Regions from separate parts of the Homo sapiens genome. Here region 2 is linked to region 1. Evidence: fine-mapped expression QTL. A gene starts in region 1. The other region holds a variant in brackets. All regions are shown on one strand. Distances are between the middles of the regions.

Region 1 (9,198 bases):
GGACTTGTGACTTCTACTCTGAAGACCCAGCCAAGGGATGGGATCATTTCTGGAATTAAAACTATGACTGCTATCTTGCCACAATCACGTTTGCTGGCTTCAATGAAGCAACTGCAAAGATGTGAACTATGCAGAGGCCTACGTGGAAAGAAAATGAGAGTGACCTCTGTCCAACAGCCACGAGGAACAGAATCATGCCCAAAACCACGTGAGCGAGCTTGGAAGCAAACGCTTTCCCTGCTGGGCCTTAAGATGACAGTGCGGCCTCGACTGACACCTTGACTGCAGCCTGTGAGAGGCCTGTGACCCAGCTGAGCTGCACCAGATTCCTGACCACAGAAGCGGAGATGACAAATGCAGGTCATTTTGGGCGGGTGTGGTGGCTCATGCCTGTAATCCCAGCACTTTGGGAGGCTGAGGTAGGCGGATCACCTGAGGTCAGGAGTTTGAGACCAGCCTGGCCAACAGGATGAAACCTTGTCTCTACTAAAAATACAAAAATTAGCCAGGCATGGTGGCGGAAGCCTGTAATCCCAGCTACTTGGGAGGCTGAGGCAGGAGAATCGCTTAAACCTGGGAGGTGGAGGTTGCAGTGAGCTAAGATTGCACCATTGCACTCTAGCCTGGGCAACAAGAGTGAAAATCTGTCTCAAAAAAAAATAAAAATACAAATAAATAAAGTACCTACTTACAGGCTTTGTATGGTTGGCTAAAAAAAAAAAAAAAAAAAAAAGAAAAAAAAAAAAAAACAGTATCTGTCTACATTCAAGCTGCGGTGAGGAAAAATTGGTCTTTTCCCTACTCCAGTCCACTCAGTCCACAGAGCATGGTATCTTTCTCACTCCCAGCTCATAGAAATCGACAACTATTAAGCACCTACTGTGTGCCCATGATGCATTTCAGTAGCTTTCAATCACCAATGGAATAAAGCCCCACCCTTCGCCTGTCATTCCTACTTGCCACGGCTTTCGTAAGCCATGTGGAGGGAATGGGACTTTTCATATATTAAGGGGGTCTTATGTGCCAGGCTTTGCAGGGAGCACTGCTCCAAAGAAGTAGCCACCCTGACTAAAAGCATGGATGCTGGAGCCAGACTGCCTGGGTTCAAATCCCAGCTCTGCCACTTACCAACCATGTGACTTTGAACAAATTATATAATTTCTCTGCATTTCTCATTTTCGAAACAGGGATGAGTACTGCTATAAACATTTGTGTCCACCCCCACCTCCAAATTCATACTGAAACCTAACCCCTAGTATGATGGTATTTGGAGGTGAGTTCTTTGGAAGGTAATTATGTCATAAGCGTAGAGCCCTCACAAACAGTATTGCCCTTATAAGGAAGCCCCAGCCAGGTGTGGTGGCTCACGCCTATAATCCCAGCACTTTGGGAGGCTGAGGCAGGTGGATCATGAGGTCAGGAGTTTGAGACCAGCCTGGCCAATAAGGCAAAACACCATCTTGACTAAAAATACAAAAATTAGCTGGGCGTGGTGGCATGTGCCTGTAGTCCCAGCTACTTGGGAGGCTAAGGCAGGAGAATTGCTTGAACCCAACAGGCAGAGGTTATAGTGAGCCAAGATCACACTCCAGCCTGGGCAATAAGAGCAAAACTATCTTTAAAAAAAAAAAAGGCAGTGCCATTCCCATGTGGTGGCTCATGCCTTTAAGCCCAGCACTTTGGGCGGCCAAAGCAGGAGGATCACTTGAGGCCAGGAGTTTGAGATCAGCCTGGTCAATATAGCAAGACTCCATCTCTTAAAAAAAAAAAAAAAAAAAAAAAAAAGTCCCCAGAGTACTCTATTGCCCCTTCTACCATGTGAGGTTACAGCAAAAAGACGGCCTCACCAGACACCGAATCTGCTGGTGCCTTGGACTTCCCAGCCTCCAGAACTGTGAGCAAAAAATTTCTTTTGTTTATAAACTACCCAGGCTATGTTATTCTGTCATAGTCCCAAATAGACTAAAACAAGTACTTACTGGCCAGGTGCGGTGGCTCACACTTGTAATCCCAGCATTTTAGGAGGCCAAGGCAGGCTGATCACTTGAGGTCAGGAATTTGAGACCAGCCTGGCCAACATGATGAAACCCCGTCTCTACTAAAAATCAAAAAAATTAGCCGGAAGTACTGGCACACGTCTGTAATCACAACTACTCGGAGGCTGAGGCAGAAGAACTGCTTGAACGCAGGAGGCAGAGGTTGCAGTGAGCTGAGATCATGCCACTGCATTCCAGCCTGGGCCACAGAGCGAGACTGTCTCAAAACACAAAAAAAACAAGTCCTTACCTCATGGGGTTGTAGAGATGATGCAATGAGTTTTATAAGTGCATAGAATAGTGCCTAGCAGAGAGTTAAGCATTACTTTAGCAATAAACAATAAGCATTACTTAAAGGCAACAGGAAGGCCCAAAGGAGCATCATAAGGGACCTCCCAAGGCCCTACAGCTATTAAGTCTATCCAGATTCTCTCTTTTCCACACTGATTCCCACCTCAAACACACTTTGCTAACCTTTGTGTTGGTTATCTATTGCTGCATAACCTTACCAGAAACTTAGCGACTTAACACAATACATTTACCATCTGTTCCTATGGGACAGTCTGGGCACAGCTTAGCTGGTCCTCTGCAAGGCTGCAGTCAGTGTTGGTCAGGCCTGGGGTCTCACCTGAAGGCTTACCTGGGAGTGATCAGCCTCCAAGCTTGTGTGGTTGCTGGCAGCATTTGCTTTCTTGCAGACTGCTGGACTGAGCTTCAGTTTCTTGTTGGCTGTCAGAGGCTACCTCAGTTCCTAGCCACCTGACCCTCTCCCAAGGGCAGCTCACACAACATGACAGCTTCCTTCTTCAAAGCCAGCAAGAGAATTTCTCAGCAAGGCAGATGTTGCAGTCTTACATAAGGCAACCATGAAAATAACATCTTGTCACCTTTGTGGCACTCTACTGGTTAGCAGTCACAGGTCTAGGCCATCTCAAGGGGCAGGGAGTACATAAGGCTGTGAACAGCAGGTGGGGATCACAGTGACCACCTGGGAGTCTATCTGCCACACCTCCCAGTGCATCCAAATTCTGTTGTGCAGAGGGCAAGTGAGGTCTAGCATACCCCCCAAGAAAGCAGCCATCTTCTACCATCCACCCACCAGTTTGTAAACTCCAGTCAGGGGTGTAATTGAAGTGATGCCTGGTTTGGGATTGAGTTTTCCTGGAGATTCTGGTCCTGTAATGAGTTTTTTCCAGCTGGGATTCCAGTTAGTGATGGACAGCATCAAGCTGTCCCTTGCTCCTGGCCCCAGACCCCACAAGGTGCTTTTCAGGCTAGATTCCTGAGGGCTGTGTCATCAGCTGTGCCACCTCCTCCTCCCTACCATGATGAACTGTTCTGGGTACTTACCTGACTCCAGAGAAAGGTCATTAAGGTCAAACAATGCAATGTGCATCTGCTAGTGCCTCATCCGAGTGACGCTCAGGTGAAGGAACAGCCTGTGGCCACACGTCTAACCAGGGGATAGCCTAGATCCTAAGGCCAGGTCTGTCTCCACAATCCAAGTGCTGATCTTCAATGGTACATACTTTTTTTTTTTTTCCTTTTGAGACAGTCTTGCTCTGTTGCCCAGGCTAGAGTACAGTGGCATGATCTCAGCTCACTGCAACCTCCACTTCCTGGAGGCAATTCTCATGCCTCAGCTTCTCAAGTAGCTGGGATTACAGGCGTGCGCCACCATGCCTGGCTAATTGTTGTATTTTTAGTAGACGGGGTTTCACCATGTTCGCCAGGCTGGTCTCGAACTCCTAACCTCAAGTAAGCCACCCACTTCGGCCTCCCAAAGTGCTGGGATTGTGGGCATGAGCCACCACACCCAGCCATGGTACACACTTCTAATAAAGCTTCCTCTACATCTAAGCTTTCTGATTTCCACCCTCCAAGTACTTAAAACTGACTCGATGTGAAGTAATGCTATGTGAAATCGACATAAAAAAGTTACTGCTCCCGAAGATCCTTTAATGCAATCTCCTTACCCTTAATTCAATGGGCAAGAGAATCTTCAATTTTCATTTTCTTTCTCCTCTCTACAGTTTCTTAATCAGAGTGGCTATTTCCATAACAATAAAAACTGCTTCTTACAGAATCCTCAGGCAAAAGAAGTGTTGTGGCTTTTTTTCATTTTTAATTCTTTTAGAGAATTCTCTAGGGTCTCACTGCTGCCTAGACTGGAGTGCGAGGCCGTGATCATAGCTCACTGCAGCCTCAAACTCCTGGGCTCAAGCAATTCTCCCACCTCAGCCTCGCAAGTAGTTAGGATTCCAAGCATGCACCACCACCACACTAATTTTTTTTTTTTTTTTTTTTTTTAAGAAATGGGGTCTAACAGCCGGGTGCCGTGGCTCACGCCTATAATCCCAGCACTTTGGGAGGCCAAGGCGGGCAGATAACTTGAGGTCAGGAGTTTGAGACCAGCCTGGCCAGCATGGTGAAACCCCATCTCTACTGAAAAAATACAAAAATTAGCTCGGTGTGGTAGGTGCCTGTAATCTCAGCTACTGGAAAGGTTGAGGTAGGAGAATCACTTTAACCTGGGAGGCGGAGGTTGTAGTGACCAAGATTGCTCCACTGCACTCCAGCCAGGGCAACAGACTGAGACTGTGTCTCAAAAAAAAGGAAAGAAATGCATCTTACTATGTTGCCCAGGCTGGTCCCAAACTCCCAGCCTCAAATGATCCTCCCGTCTTGGCCTCTCAAAGTGCTGGGATTACAGGCGTGAGCCACTGCACCCGGCCTCTTAATTTTACTTTTGACCTCTGGGTATCTGCACCCCTTTACTACTTAGGGAGATGCTCTGCCGGTAGGTTTGGTGGAAGACGGAAAGCAAGGGGCCAGGCTCTCTAGAACGGCCTGTATCATGAGACGCCACAAGAGAATTAAGCCCCACACAAAGTGATTCAAGCAACTACTTTCACATCAACCAAAGGATGATGAAAAGACTGTACTATCCTAGAGAACACAGGAGAGAAGGTACCGATTGCCTTAGACAACAAGGTTGCATTTCCTCACTTTGGCCAGCCTCACACCCCAGCCCTGAACTTTCAATCTGGACACTTGGTCAGTGGTGAGAGAAGTGGCCGTGAGTCTAGCTGTGGCACCCTGAAGAGTTTAACAGCCACGCGGCCAGAAACACATTCATCTTTCACATACAATGACAGAAGTAAAAATATTTATTTTATCTTAAAAATCTGGTCCCGCAAAAAGGCCAACACTTTTTTCAGTTCACGGTCTTGACCTTTCAAAGAAGAAATCTTTCAACTGAGAGGTGAGTTAATAAAAGGAATGTCAGAGGTGCTTTCAGATTTCTTATAAACCAGTAAACCAAGCAACCCTGGACTTCTAGTTTACTGAGCTCCTTCTTCTAGCCATTCACAGTTCCTGAAGGAGAAAAGAAGTTGTTTGCAGATAAGGCACTTTAGAAACCACCAAAGAGAAAACCCAAGTCTGCCAGGAGCTGCACTGTGAACATGTGAGCCGAGAGGGCCACCAGCAGACAGAGTGCCAACTCCCACAGCTCCATGACAACAGCATCCACCTTCCTGCCCCAACACTGTTCCGTCTGGCTTCCAGCACCCGCCTTGGCTCTGTGTTGCCTACCTGGCCTAGAATACATGGAAACCAGACAACTGGCCAGAGATAAACACTGCTGCCTGAAGCTCAGGGCAGCTGCCCACAGTGAGGAATCCCTTCAGAGGCCCCAGCTGGGGCACGCCGAGGGAGCAGTTCCTTTTGCAAAGATGAGTTAGTGCGGATCAGCACATTAGCAAAGCAAAATATTTAAACATTTTTAAAAGCTGCTAATCCTTCCAATTTCCCTCCTGATTGTAGCTCAAGCTGCAGCCTCTAAACCTGCTAAAAATCAGGAAGAAACCCCTCCTCTGGAGGGCAGATGGACTGAAGTGGCTACAGCCAGTGTGGGTACGGAAAGCCTCCCGCTGAACTGTGATCATGTGACACCTGCAGACCCTGGGAAGGGCTGATCTGAATCCTGGCAGCAAACTCAACCTCTTCTTTTGCTTGGGGGGCTTGTGTTTAATACAGGTCATTGCGATGGAAGAAGTCTCAGAGTCTCTCTCACATCAAGAGGACAGATGGGGACAGGGATCCTGGAGCTTTTCTTCTCCTGTGTTCTGGTTGCATACTTGAATCCCAGGAAACAGTGTGACACGGTGCCAATTTACTGCCAAACATGCCCGGTTTGTCAACAGAGCCAGACAAGGAGGAGAGGAGAGATTCATGCCCCAAACACAGGCCAGCTGAGGAGGGCTTCGTCCTCCTTCCTTTGGCCCAGATGAGGGAGCGCCTTCCCAGAAGTCACATGAGGAAAAACCGTGCTCAGGTCAGAACTGGACCCAGCCTGTGCCTGGCTGGGTCTGGCTGGAAGTTGATCTGTAAAGAGAAGACAGGGAAGGGTGGGGGAGTTCAGATCTTTGAAAATACAAAGCAGATAAAAGTTGGTTTCTCTCTGGACAGAAAAAGCTCTAAGAAGCCAGTTCCTAAATGTTCTAGAGCAGCAGTCAGCAAACTCTGGCACAGAGACCAAATCTGGCCCTCGATGGTTTTTTTTTTTTAAATAGTTAATGTAACTGTATTTACCAAAGTTTTTTGTTTGTGGTTTTGTTTTTTGTTTTGTTTTTTTTTTGAGACAGGGTCTCACTGTCGCCCAGGCTGGAATGCAGTGGCACACTCAAGGCCAACTATAGCCTCAACCTCTTGAGCTCAAGCGATCCTCCTACCTCAGCCTCCCTAGTAGCTGGAACTACATGACCGGTTAATTTTTGTATTTCTTTTAGTAGACACAGGGTTTTGCCATGTTGCCCAGGCTGGTCTCGAACTCCTGGCCTCAAGTGATCTGCCTGCTTTGGCCTCCCAAAGTGCTGGGATTACAGGCGTGAGCCAACATGCCTGGCCGAAGAGTCTTAACCCCTTTCCCATGTAGAAAAAATATAGCTCACTGCCAGCCCTCATTTAATTTTACATAAACATGCTCTTTGAGGCTGAAGCAAATCTGACTGATTTTCAACGTGAAAATAAAATATAAAAACTGTTCTTGGAGTTATTTCAGAATCATCTGAATAATCAGAACTATTTTGGAAAAATCAGACTCCTCAAATGAATCTTAGGCTAAAAACTGTTCAAGAACGATGTTAACATCACATGTAAGAATGCTGCGTTTTCTAGGATTTGACTTTTTCAGTAATCAATAATTACTATATTTTGGGCCAGGCATGGTAGTTCACGCCTGTAATCCCAGCACTCTGGGAGGCTGAGGTAGGCGGACTGCTGGATTCCAGGAGTTCCAGACCAGCCTGGGCAACATAGCAAAACCCCGCCTCTACTAAAAATACAAAAAATTAGCCGGGTGTGGTGGCAATTGCCTGTAGTCCCAGCTACTCAGGAGGCTAAGGGATAATCACCTGAGCCTGGAAGGTCAAGGATGCAGTGAGCCGACATCACGCCACTGCACTCCAGCCTAGGCAACCAGAGTGAAACCTTGTCTCAAAAAAAAAAAAAAAAAAAAAACAGAATTACTATATTTTGTAAATGGAAATACCACTATTAAAAACAGAATGCTATAAATAGAATGTCTTTTGTTCCAAAGCTGATATACTAGAGCGATGCAAAAATAATATAAAAGCAATACATTTTGTGGCAAAGTTATCTCAGGGTCAACGCTGCAGTCTGAAGTGCCACTGGCAAGTTTTCTCAGGGCAAACAGGAAAAGGGTTACAGTCCTCATTTCACGCCTCTGTTTTTTTTGTTTGTTTATTTGTTTTTTGAGATGGAGTCTTGCTCTTGTGACCCAGGCTGGACTAGAGTGGCATGATGTCAGCTGACTGCAATCTCCCGGGTTCAAGCAATTCTCGTGCCTCAGCCTCCCAAGTAGCTGGGATTACAGGCACCACCCCACCACGCCCAACTAATTTTTGTGTATTTAGTAGAGATGGGGTTTGACCATGTTGGCCAGGCTGGTCTTGAACTCCTGACCTCAGGTGATCCGCCTGCCTGGGAATCCCAAAGTGCTGGGATTACAGGCATGAGCCACCGCGCCCAGCCCATGCCTCTATTTTTGTAAATAAAATTTTACTGGCACACAGCCATGCTGATTTATTTACATATTGTCTGTGGCTGCTTTTGTGCAACAAGAGCAGAACTGAGTAGCTAGAACGAAGACCACACGGCCTGAATAGTCTAAACTATTTGCTATCTAGTCCTTTACAGAAAATGTGGCTGGGCACACTGGCTCGTGCCTATAATCCCAGCACTCTGGGAGGCCGAGGCAGGCAGATCGCTTGAGCCCAGGAGTTCAAGGCCAGCCTGCGCAACATGGCAAAACCCCGTATCTATGAAAAAATACAAAAAATAGCTGGCATGGTGATGTGCACCTGTAGAGCCAGCAACATGGGAGAATGTGGTTGCAGTAAGCCGTGATAGTGCCACTGCACTCCAGCCTGGGTGACAGAGAGAGACCCTGTCTCAAAACATGAAAAGAAAAAGAAAATGTGTGCTGACCCCTGTCCTAGAATCTGTCCATGTAAATAATAGTGCAGTAGGAATTTAGTATCTTTTCACCCTGGCCCCAAGTAAAGTCTTGAGATCTTATGGAATCAGAGAAGACAAGCCACCTAGCCTCAGGCGTTCTATGAGGATGGGCTGAGGCTGGAGCCTGGGTCTGAACTCTCAGTCCACTATTTTGGGGAAGGTGGGGGATGGGGTATAGAAGAAGGAGGTACTGGGGACAAGCCAAAGCACTTGGGAAGGCGGTTTAAAGGCCCAGATTTGCAAAGGGTTGCCCCAGGCTATATAGCACTGGAAAGCAGCAAAACCTCCACGGAAAGACGTGTGCCACCCAAAGCAGGCACGCTGGGGCTCTGTCCTCTGGCTAGCTTGAAAACATCCAAATCAGGCCAGGCGCGGTGGCTCATGCCTGTAATCCCAGTACTTTGGGAGGACGAGGCAGGTGGATCGCCTGAGGTCAGGAGTTCAAGACAACCCTGACGAACATGGTAAAACCCCATCTCTACTAAAAATATAAAAAATTAGCCAGGCGTGGTGGCAGGTGCCTGTAATCCCAGCTACTCAGGAGGCTGAGGCAGGAGAATAGCTTGAACCTGGGAGGCAGAGGTTGCAGCGAGCCAAGATCATGCCATTGCACTCCAGC
Region 2 (9,198 bases), 33 kb after region 1:
ATGAGGTTGGATGAAAGAGGTGGAGGAGAGATGAAAGGCTTCAGAAATGGCCAGGTGCAGTGGCTCACACCTGTAATCCCAACACTTTGGGAGGCCGAGGCGGGCGGATCACTTGAGGTCAGGAGTTCAAGACCAGCGTGGCCAACCTGGTGAAACCCCATCTCTACTAAAAATACAAAAATTAGCCGGGCATGGTGGCGGCCGCCTAAAATCCCAGCTAGTAGGGAGGCTGAGGCAGGAGAATTGCTTGAGCCCAGGAGGCAGAGGTTGCAGTGAGCCAAGATTGCAGCACTGCACTCCAGCCTGGGCAACAGAGCGAGACTCTGTCTCAAAACAAACAAAAAAAAAAAAAAAAGAAGAAGAAGAAGAAGAAAAGAAAAAGAAAAAGAAAGGATGTGTCCAGGGCAGGGTGTGGGTGCTTTGGTGAACTGCAGATTGCCGCTGGAGACTTTGGGGCCCTGAGACAGATGGACAGATGTCCCTAGTTCTTGTTCCTTAGCCCCATCTAAGAACATGGAGTTTTCATCTATAGCAGGAGCAGCTGTGACATTCTTGGACTCTCTTTAAAAGGCACATTAGTATTTTAAAGGCTCTGAGAAGTTGTACAGGAAAGAGCCTGTATCATTTCGCTCATCACAGCACTTTCCAAAGGCATTTAGCCTTGGAACCCCTTGGAGCATCTGAAGGGACCAGTATGCCAAAGAATACCCTGTAGGAAATGTCGCCGTCGGGGAAAGCGCCTGGGTTTTGGGATTCAACAGGCCATGGTTCAAATCCTCGTCTGCGACCTAGCAGGTGTTAGATCTTGGGCAAGTCTTGTGCCTTCCAGAGCCCCTTTTCCTCAGGGTCATAGTGAGAACTAGGAAAAGCGTATGGGTAAATGGCATGTGGCTAGCTCTCTGGTTTTGCTGCGTGCCTCTCCTTGCAAGGCCTGGCCCCGCCTCTTCCCTCGAGCCAGGCTGTCTACATTATAGGCTCCAAGTGGGCTCCTGAAGCAGCAGTTAGGTGATGGGCTTGGTGGGACGCTTGATTGGATTTCTCCTGTAGGAGCACACTAGGTGATGCCCCTCACTTGGCACCCGTGTTGGCGCTGGCATCATGGACAATAGAAACACCCAGATGTACACGGAGGGTAGAACCAAGGCTCCAGGGACGCAGCCAAGTCCTGGCCTGAGGATCACCATAAAGAGGGCTGGTGTTGAGCCCATCATACCAGGAGTCAGCAAGGTAGGGACCTGCACCCCATGTTCTGATCCATTCACTCCTAGCTGGCACCTTTCCCTTCCCCTGCCCAGGCTTCCTCCCCAGCTGCTTTAATTAAGACTCTGTTAAAAATGGACACAAAACCCAATTCAAACTGGATTAAGCAGAAAAGAGAATATATCAGTTTGGGTAACTGACACATGCCTTCATAGACTTCAGGTATGGCTAGATCAATGTGCTAAATGAGTATCTCTTGGCTCTATGTTCCTCCGTGTTGGATTCATTCTCAGGCAAGCTCTCCCTGCAAGATGGCAGGGATTGCCCTGGCCACTCCAGGATTACATCTTCCCATCTTACACCCTCTGGTTTAGCATTCCAACAGGAAGTGAGCCTCTTTGCAATAGTTGAAACAAGTCTCTAGCATCACTGTCATTGGCCCAGATTGTGGTCAGATGCTCATCCTTGAACCAATCACCATGGCAGTGGGGAGTGGTCTGGATCTCTTGATACAATGGAGACAGAGGTGATAGGTGGCTCCACTGAGCCCCATGGGCTGAATGGAGAAGAGAAGCTTCCCAAAAACAATGCTGGCTTCTGTAACGGAAAGAGCTGCAGGGTGAGCAAACCCAGAATTGCCTACTCGCTCTTCTAGGTGCCTTGCATGGCCTCCAAACTCCCCTCACAGCCTCCAGCCCAGCTTTATTCTCCTGAGAGCTACTCAGGGCTTCCCTCCATGCCCCTCCCCAGAGCCCAGCCTGCATCCTAAGCTTCCATCACACCTCTCAGCCTCTTTCCATCAAATATGTTTATTAGTTTGTTTGTTTGTTTATTTTTGAGACAGGCTCTCACTCTCTCACCCAGACTGGAGTGCAGTGGTGCGATCACGACTCACTGCAGCCTCGAACTCCCAGGCTTAAGCGATCCTCCTGCCTCAGCCTCCTGAGTAGCTGGAACTATAGGCGTGGCTTGTGCCACCATACCCAACTATTTTTTTAATTTTTTGTAGAGACAAGGCTTTATCATGTTGCCCAGGCTGGTCTTGAACTCATGGGCTCAAGTGATCTGTCTGCCTCAGCCTCCCAAAGTGTTGGGATTACAGGCATAAGCCTCCGTGTCCGGCATCTTCTTTTTTTTTTTTTTTTTTTTTTTTTTGAGATAGAGTCTTGCTGTCACCCAGGCTGGAGTGCAATGGTGTGATCATGGCTCACTGCAACCTCTGCCTCCTGGGTTCAAATGATTTCCGTCTAATTTTTTTTGTATTTTTAGAAGAGATGGGATTTCACCATGTTGGACAGGCTGGTCTTGAACTCCTGACCCCAAGTGATCCGCCCACCTCGGCCTCCCAAAATGTTAGGATTACAGGCGTGAGCCACTGCGCCCCACTGGCCTCTTTTTGAATGTGCCAAGTAGCATGAACTGAAGAGCATAAAGAAGACCCTCCTCACCATCCAGTTTCCTCAGGGCCAAAGATATCACCATTTAAAAAGTCAGCCAGCCGGGCGCGGTGGCTCACGCCTGTAATCCCAGCACTTTGGGAGGCCGAGGCGGGTGGATCACCTGAGGTCGGGAGTTCAAGACCAGCCTGACCAACATGGAGAAACCCAGTCTCTACTAAAAATACAAAATTAGCCTGGCATGGTGGTGCATGCCTGTAATCCCAGCAACTTGGGAGGCTGAGGCAGGAGAATCGCTTGAACCTGGGAGGTGGAGGTTGCGGTGAGCGGAGATTGCACCATTGCACTCCAGCCTGGGCAACAAGAGTGAAACTCCATCTCAAAAATAAATAAACAAACAAACAAACAAATAAATAAAATACAATACAATAAAATAAAAAGTCAGCCAGGTGCCATGGCTCACGCCTGCTCCCAATACTTTGGGAGGCAGAGATAGGTGGATTGCTTGATCCCAGGAGTTAAAGACCAGCCTGGGCAACATCGTGAGACCCCGTCTCAAAAAAAAAACAAAGCCAGGCGCGGTGGCTCACGCCTGTGATCCCAGCTCTTAGGGAGGCAGAGGCGGGAGGAGAGCTTGAGTCCAGGAGTTCGAGGCCTGCCTGGGCAATATAGCGAGACCCCGTTCTCCACAAAAAGGAAAAGAAAAAAAAAGCCAAAAAAAAAAATAAAAAGTCAACATGCCCTTGGGTATGTTCCCTGTAGCCTCTGTTATAAATCCTCACTTCCCCTGGGGCAGGGAGAGGGCCTGGAGGGGAGGAGGCTAGGAGAGAGGCTAGAGGTGAACATTCAGGGCTTCCTTCATCCACCCATTTATTTTTTCAACAAGCACCGTCATGGGGTCCCAGTCCCACCACTTACCCAGCTGTGTGATGTTGGGCCTGTCACTGCACCCCTTGCAGCCTCATTTGTTTTACGGTGTTGACTAAGGCACCTAGCACAGGCCCTGTCTCATAGTAGGTGCCTGTTAGTATTAGCTCACATCAGAATCTTGTATTATATCAATGTCAATGAGTTAATTAAGTCCATTTGTTTGGAGTTTGCTGACTCCGGTGATGCTTGGAGCGGGGTCTCAGTCACTGGCTCCAGGTCACCCAGTTGGAGAGTGACAGACCATGATAGTGATCAAAACCCAGTTCAGGCCAGGTGCGGTGCCTCATGCCTGTAATCCCAGCACTTTGGGAGGCTGAGGCAGACGGATCACTTGAGGTCAGAAGTTCGAGACCAGCCTGGCCTACAAAAAAAATAAAAAAAAAAAATTAGTTGGGCATGGTGGCGCACACCTGTAATCCCACCTACTCGGGAAGCTGAGGCACAAGAATCGCTTGAACCCAGCAGGTGGAAGTTGCAGTGAGCCGAGACTGTGCCACTGCACTCCAGCCTGGGCAAAGGAGGGAAACTCTCTCTCAAAAAATGAAATAAAAACTCAGTTCAAACTAGAGCCTGCGTTTTGAAGGCATGGGAATTGTTGAAGGCGTCTCTTGGACCTTGTGAGAGTCTTGGGGTCCCCCAGGGTGCTCTTTCAAGCTGTCCTTAAGGCAATCCCCTTGTCTCGGGTACTAATCTGGACTCCAGTTCATACCAGAGCCTTACGTGCTAAGCAACAGCAACAGCAGGGCCGGGCCCTGCATCCCTGCCTCTCAGCTCCTGCTCACCCCTCTCCAACAGCTTCCCCAATCAGGCACAGGATCTCCCTGTCCTTGAGGCCAGAAGAGTACCCAGGGAGGAGTGGGAGGGATCACTCCAGAACGGGTACTCAATGCCAGCCCTCAAGCCACTGCCATGGATATCTCTGTCCAGGTCATGTTTCCGGATGCTTCGGAAGTGGGCAGCAAGAAGCACCTCTCATCAGCTTCACGAGGGCCAGAGAAGGGGCCCAGACTCAGAGATGCATTTGAGAAGGGGCCTTCAGAGCTCAGAATCCAGGAGCAGGGGCCTCCAGCAAGACCAGGGTGAGCTGAGGGGCTCTCGAGAGAACAGGTCCAAGAGAGAACCCCCTGTAGCCCACCCGCGGGGGAGAGAGAGAGAATGGAGAACTCCCAGGCCAAGGCAGCTCCACCCACGACAGCACCTTGTCCTTCTCTTTCATTGCACCAGTTGCACTAAAGAGTTCATGTTAACCTTTTGTCTGAACTCCCCCAACGAGACCACAAACATCTTTTATGTGTCTTGTTTGAGGAGCATCATATACCTGGTTCAACCTCAAAGCCCTCATGCCTAGTACTATGCCTGACACATAGTAAATGTTCGATAAATATTGATTCACTGAATTAATAGAATAATGAACAAAAAAAGGTTAGGAGACACAGGAACATGTAAAGATGTACACGTAATTGTTTTCTAAATTTTGTGTTTTTTTAAAACTTTTCTACAGCAAGAATGTATTCAAAAAGAGAAAATCAAGAGCGAGCCAGATAGAGGCAAAGTGAAAGGCTGGGATAATAGAAATAGTAAAGACTAGCTGGCTTAGTTGGATTTGACTATAACCAGAAGCTCCTAAATAGCCTCCTCTACAAGAAAAGTTAGGAGAGACAACTCAAGCCAGGTCCGAGGCCCACTGAGACAACTACTGCATACCATGCCGGTGGAAATAGAAACCATTTAAGCATACCTGTTTCATCAACGTGGCAATTTGTTTAAACTGCCTTGAAACTCCCTTTATCCTCACCCATTTCTGGAAATAGGCCATGAGGAAATAATTGGTGATTCAAGCAGTTTTATGCACAAAGACTTTCACTGTCACATTATCTTAAATACTAAAAAATTAGAAACCCCTTAAGCGCCCACACAATAGGGAAATGGTTAATGATGGTTATCTTTAAAATATGGAATTTTATACATTTAATGAACATAAGAAAACATATAAAGCATGTTTCTGAAGGATTTTTAGCATGCGAAAAACACAGGCTATGATGTTAATTGAAAAAAGTACATTAGGCCGGGCACAGTGGCTCACACCTGTAATCCCAGCACTTTGGGAGGCCAAGGCAGGTGGATTACCTGAGGTCAGGGGTTTAAAACCAGTCTGGCCAACATGGCAAAACCCCATCTCTACTAAAAATATAAAACTAGCTGGGCATGGTGGCACATGCCTGTAATCCCAGCTACTTGGGAGGCTGAGGCAGGAGAATCACTTGAACCCAGGAGGCAGAGGTTGCAGT[G/A]AGCCAAGATCACTCCACTGCACTCCAGCCTGGGCAACAAGAGCAAAATTCTGTCTCAAAAAAAAAAAAAAAAAATATATATATATATATATATATAGCCGGGCACCATGGTTCACGCCTGTAATCTCAACACTTTGGGAAGTTGAGGTTGGCGGATCACTTAAGCCCAGGAGTTCAAGACCAACCTGGACAACATGGTGAAACCCCATCTCTACAAAAAATATGAAGATTGGCCAGGCATGGTGGCATATGCCTGTAGTCCCAGCTACTTGGGAGGCTAAGGCGGGAGGATTGCTTGAGCCCAGGAAGTGGAGGTTGCAGTGAGCTGAGATCATGCCACTACACTCGAACCTGGGTGACAGAGCAAGACTCTGTCTCAAATAAATAAATAAATAAATAAGTATGCATACGCATAGGAAGAAGCTTGGAGGAAATACTCCAGAATACTAAAGTGAGATCGGATAGACACAGCTTCAAATTTTGAACAGTTATCTTTAGCTTTATGACCTTAGGCTCAAATCTCTTGTCCTCTCTGCATCCCAGTTCTGATTTTTGTTTCATTTTTTTCTGAAAAACAGTTTAAAAATACTATAAAACTTAAATTCTAGGCTGGATGCAATGGCACGTACCTCTAATCCCAGCACTTTGGGAGGCCGAGGTCGAAGATTGCTTGAGCCCAGGAGTTCAAGACCAGCCTGGGCAACACAGAGAGACCTTGTCTCTACAAATAATTGTGAAAGTTTAAATTTTAACTCCCCCAAACATTGACATCAAAGTGTCTATGATTTGGGGAATTCCTGTGAGTCCTTCATTGGTCCTTCCAGGCGTTAGCTATGCACCTATGGTATGCCTAGCCCTGTAAAAATATATAAAACAGTGCCCCAGTCTGGGAGCTAAAGTGTCACTTTGTCTATTTTCCCCAGGAAGAAACAGCCCTCTTGGGTCCCCCAGGAAGGGTCCCAGGAGCTGCAAGCAGGCCAGGATCAGAGTGAGCTGGGGTTGCTGCCTTCCTGGGTTCCTGAAGTACCTGAAGGGCTGCAGCAGCTGGGCTCCGGAAAGGAGATCAAGGGCCAGCAGGGGAGGCAACGGAACCGGGGAATCGGGGAGGATCAGCCTCCTGAGAGCTGCCAGGTAACCTAGGAGATCTGGGGAGAAGGGTATGGAATGACCTACCACAGAGGAGGTGAAAGAGCCCCCCTCCTATCATGCCCCCCATTCTGGTGCATGTATCTGTAGTCCCAGCTACTTGGGAGGCTGAGGCAGGGGTGATCCCTTGAGCCCAGGAGGTCAAGGCTACAATGAGCTATGTTCAGGCCACTGCACTCCAGCCTGGGTGACAGAATGTTTGCTCACCTCTGTGCCCTGAAGATGTCAAGCACTCAGTCTGTGGGTCACTGGGCTATTCCCCCAGCCTACATCACAAGCATTTAAGTCTTGTTTCCAGGCCGGGCATGGTGGCTCACGCCTGTTAATCCCAGCACTTCTGGAGGCCGAAGGAGGCAGATCACCTGAGGTCAAGACCAGCCTGGCCAACATGGTAAAACCCTGTCTCTACTAAAAAATATAAAATTAGCCGGGTGTGGTGGCACATGCCTGTAATCCCAGCTACTCAAGAGGCCGAGGCAGGAGAATTGCTTGAACACGGGAGGTGGAGGTTGCAGTGAGCTGAGATCGCGCCATTGCACTCCAACCAGGGCAATGAGAGCAAAACTCCGTCTCAAAAAAATAAAAATAAAATAAAAATAAGTCTTGTTTCCAGAGTGGCCCCACGGTATGTCAATGGGTGCAGGGGGGAGGGAGGAGGTGCCAGGTTCTGTATACAGATAATATTGGGACATGCTGAGTTTAACAAAGCTGAAACAGGTTTCTGTATGCTAGGATATCCTGGAAGCAGTTTACTAGCTGCTGAGCCTTTGTAAGATTTTGCAAGATATGATTAGAGGCCAGGCGCCGTGGCTCGTGCTTGTAATCCCAGCACTTTGGGAGGCTGAGGTGGGAGGATTGCTTGAGCCCAGGAGTTTGAGATCAGGGCAACATGGTGAAACCCCGTTCCTACAAAAAATACCAAAGTTAGCTGGATGTGGTGGCACATGTCTGTGGCCCCAGCTACTCCAGATACTGAGATGGGAGGATCCCCTGAGCCTGGGGTCCAGGCTGCAGTGAGCCAAGATCACACCACTGTGCTCCAGCCTGGGTGACAGAGTGAAACCCTGTCTCAAAAAAAATAAAAATAAAAAAATAAATAAAAAATTTTAAAAAGATATGGTTAGAGTATATTGCCTTTCCCAAACTTATTTGACCACAAGATCTTTTTTTATTTATCTGTAAGATTTTTTTTTTTTTTGAGACAGTCTTGCTCTGTCGCCCAGGCTGGAGTGCAGTGGCGCAATCTCGGCTCACTGCAAGCTCTGCCTCCCAGGTTCATGCCATTCTCCTGCCTCAGCCTCCCAAAGTGCTGGGATTACAGGTGTGAGCCACCGCACCCAGCCTGGTAAGATTTATTTTTAACAGCTTCAGTAAGGTATAATTGGCATTCACTTGCACATACTTTAAGTGTACAATTTAATATTTTGACATATGTACACACCCACAAAACCATCCCCACAATCAAGAAAGCAAACATAGCCATCACCCCAACCATTTCCTCATGCCCTTTCTCATCCCCCCTCCCACTAGTCTATCCCCAGGCGACTACCAACTATCACTATAGATTTGTTTGTATTTCGTGGAATTTTACACAAATGAAATTGTACAGTGTACATTCTTTCTGTCTGGCTTCGTTCACTCCACATGACTATTTGAGATTCATCTAGGTCGGGTGCGGTGGCTCAGCCTGTAATCCCAGCACTCTGGGAGGCTGAGGCGGGTGAATCACCTGAGGTCAGGAGTTCAAGACCAGCTTGGCCAACCTGGTGAAACCCCGTCTCTACTAAAAATATAAACATTAGCTGGGCATGGTGGCAGGTGCCTGTAGTCCCAGCTACTCGGGAGGCTGAGGCAGGAGAATCACTTGAACCTGGGAGGCGGAGGTTGCAGTGAGCTGAGATCATGCCAGTGCACTCCAGCCTGGAGAACAGAGTGAGACTCTGTCTCCAAAAAAAAAAAAAAAAAAAAAGGAGAGAGAGAAAGAGAAAGAAATTCATGTATTGTGTGTATCAACATGTTGTTCTTTTGGTTGCTCAGTAATATTTCCATTCTATGGATATACCATAATATACCACTTTTTTTTTTTTTTTTTTTTTGACATGGAGTCTCACCCTGTTGCCCAGGCTGGAGTGCAGGGGTGTGATCTTGGGTCACTGCAACCTCCACCTCCTGGGTTCAAGTGATCCTCCCACCTCAGCCTCCTGAGTGGCTGGGATTACAGGCACGTACCACCACGC

What was found. PIP is the estimated chance that this variant, and not a neighbour inherited with it, causes the effect.
Region 2: its variant is fine-mapped to the expression of LINC01772 in esophagus mucosa (GTEx, PIP 0.97).

Annotation. Positions count from the first base shown.
Region 1 is chr1:16,456,069-16,465,266 of GRCh38, reverse strand. LINC01772 (long intergenic non-protein coding RNA 1772) reads right to left here and starts at 4,319. Exons shown (of 2, transcript NR_147210.1): 1 at 1,980-4,319. NECAP2 (NECAP endocytosis associated 2) reads right to left here. Exons shown (of 8, transcript NM_018090.5): 8 at 5,189-6,425. The coding sequence ends at 6,377.
Region 2 is chr1:16,423,272-16,432,469 of GRCh38, reverse strand. SPATA21 (spermatogenesis associated 21) reads left to right here. Exons shown (of 13, transcript NM_198546.1): 3 at 1,048-1,132. The coding sequence starts at 1,099. Among named protein-coding and RNA genes, the nearest start is that of SPATA21, 9.6 kb to the left of the region's middle. The variant G/A (reference allele first, on the strand shown) is at 5,816.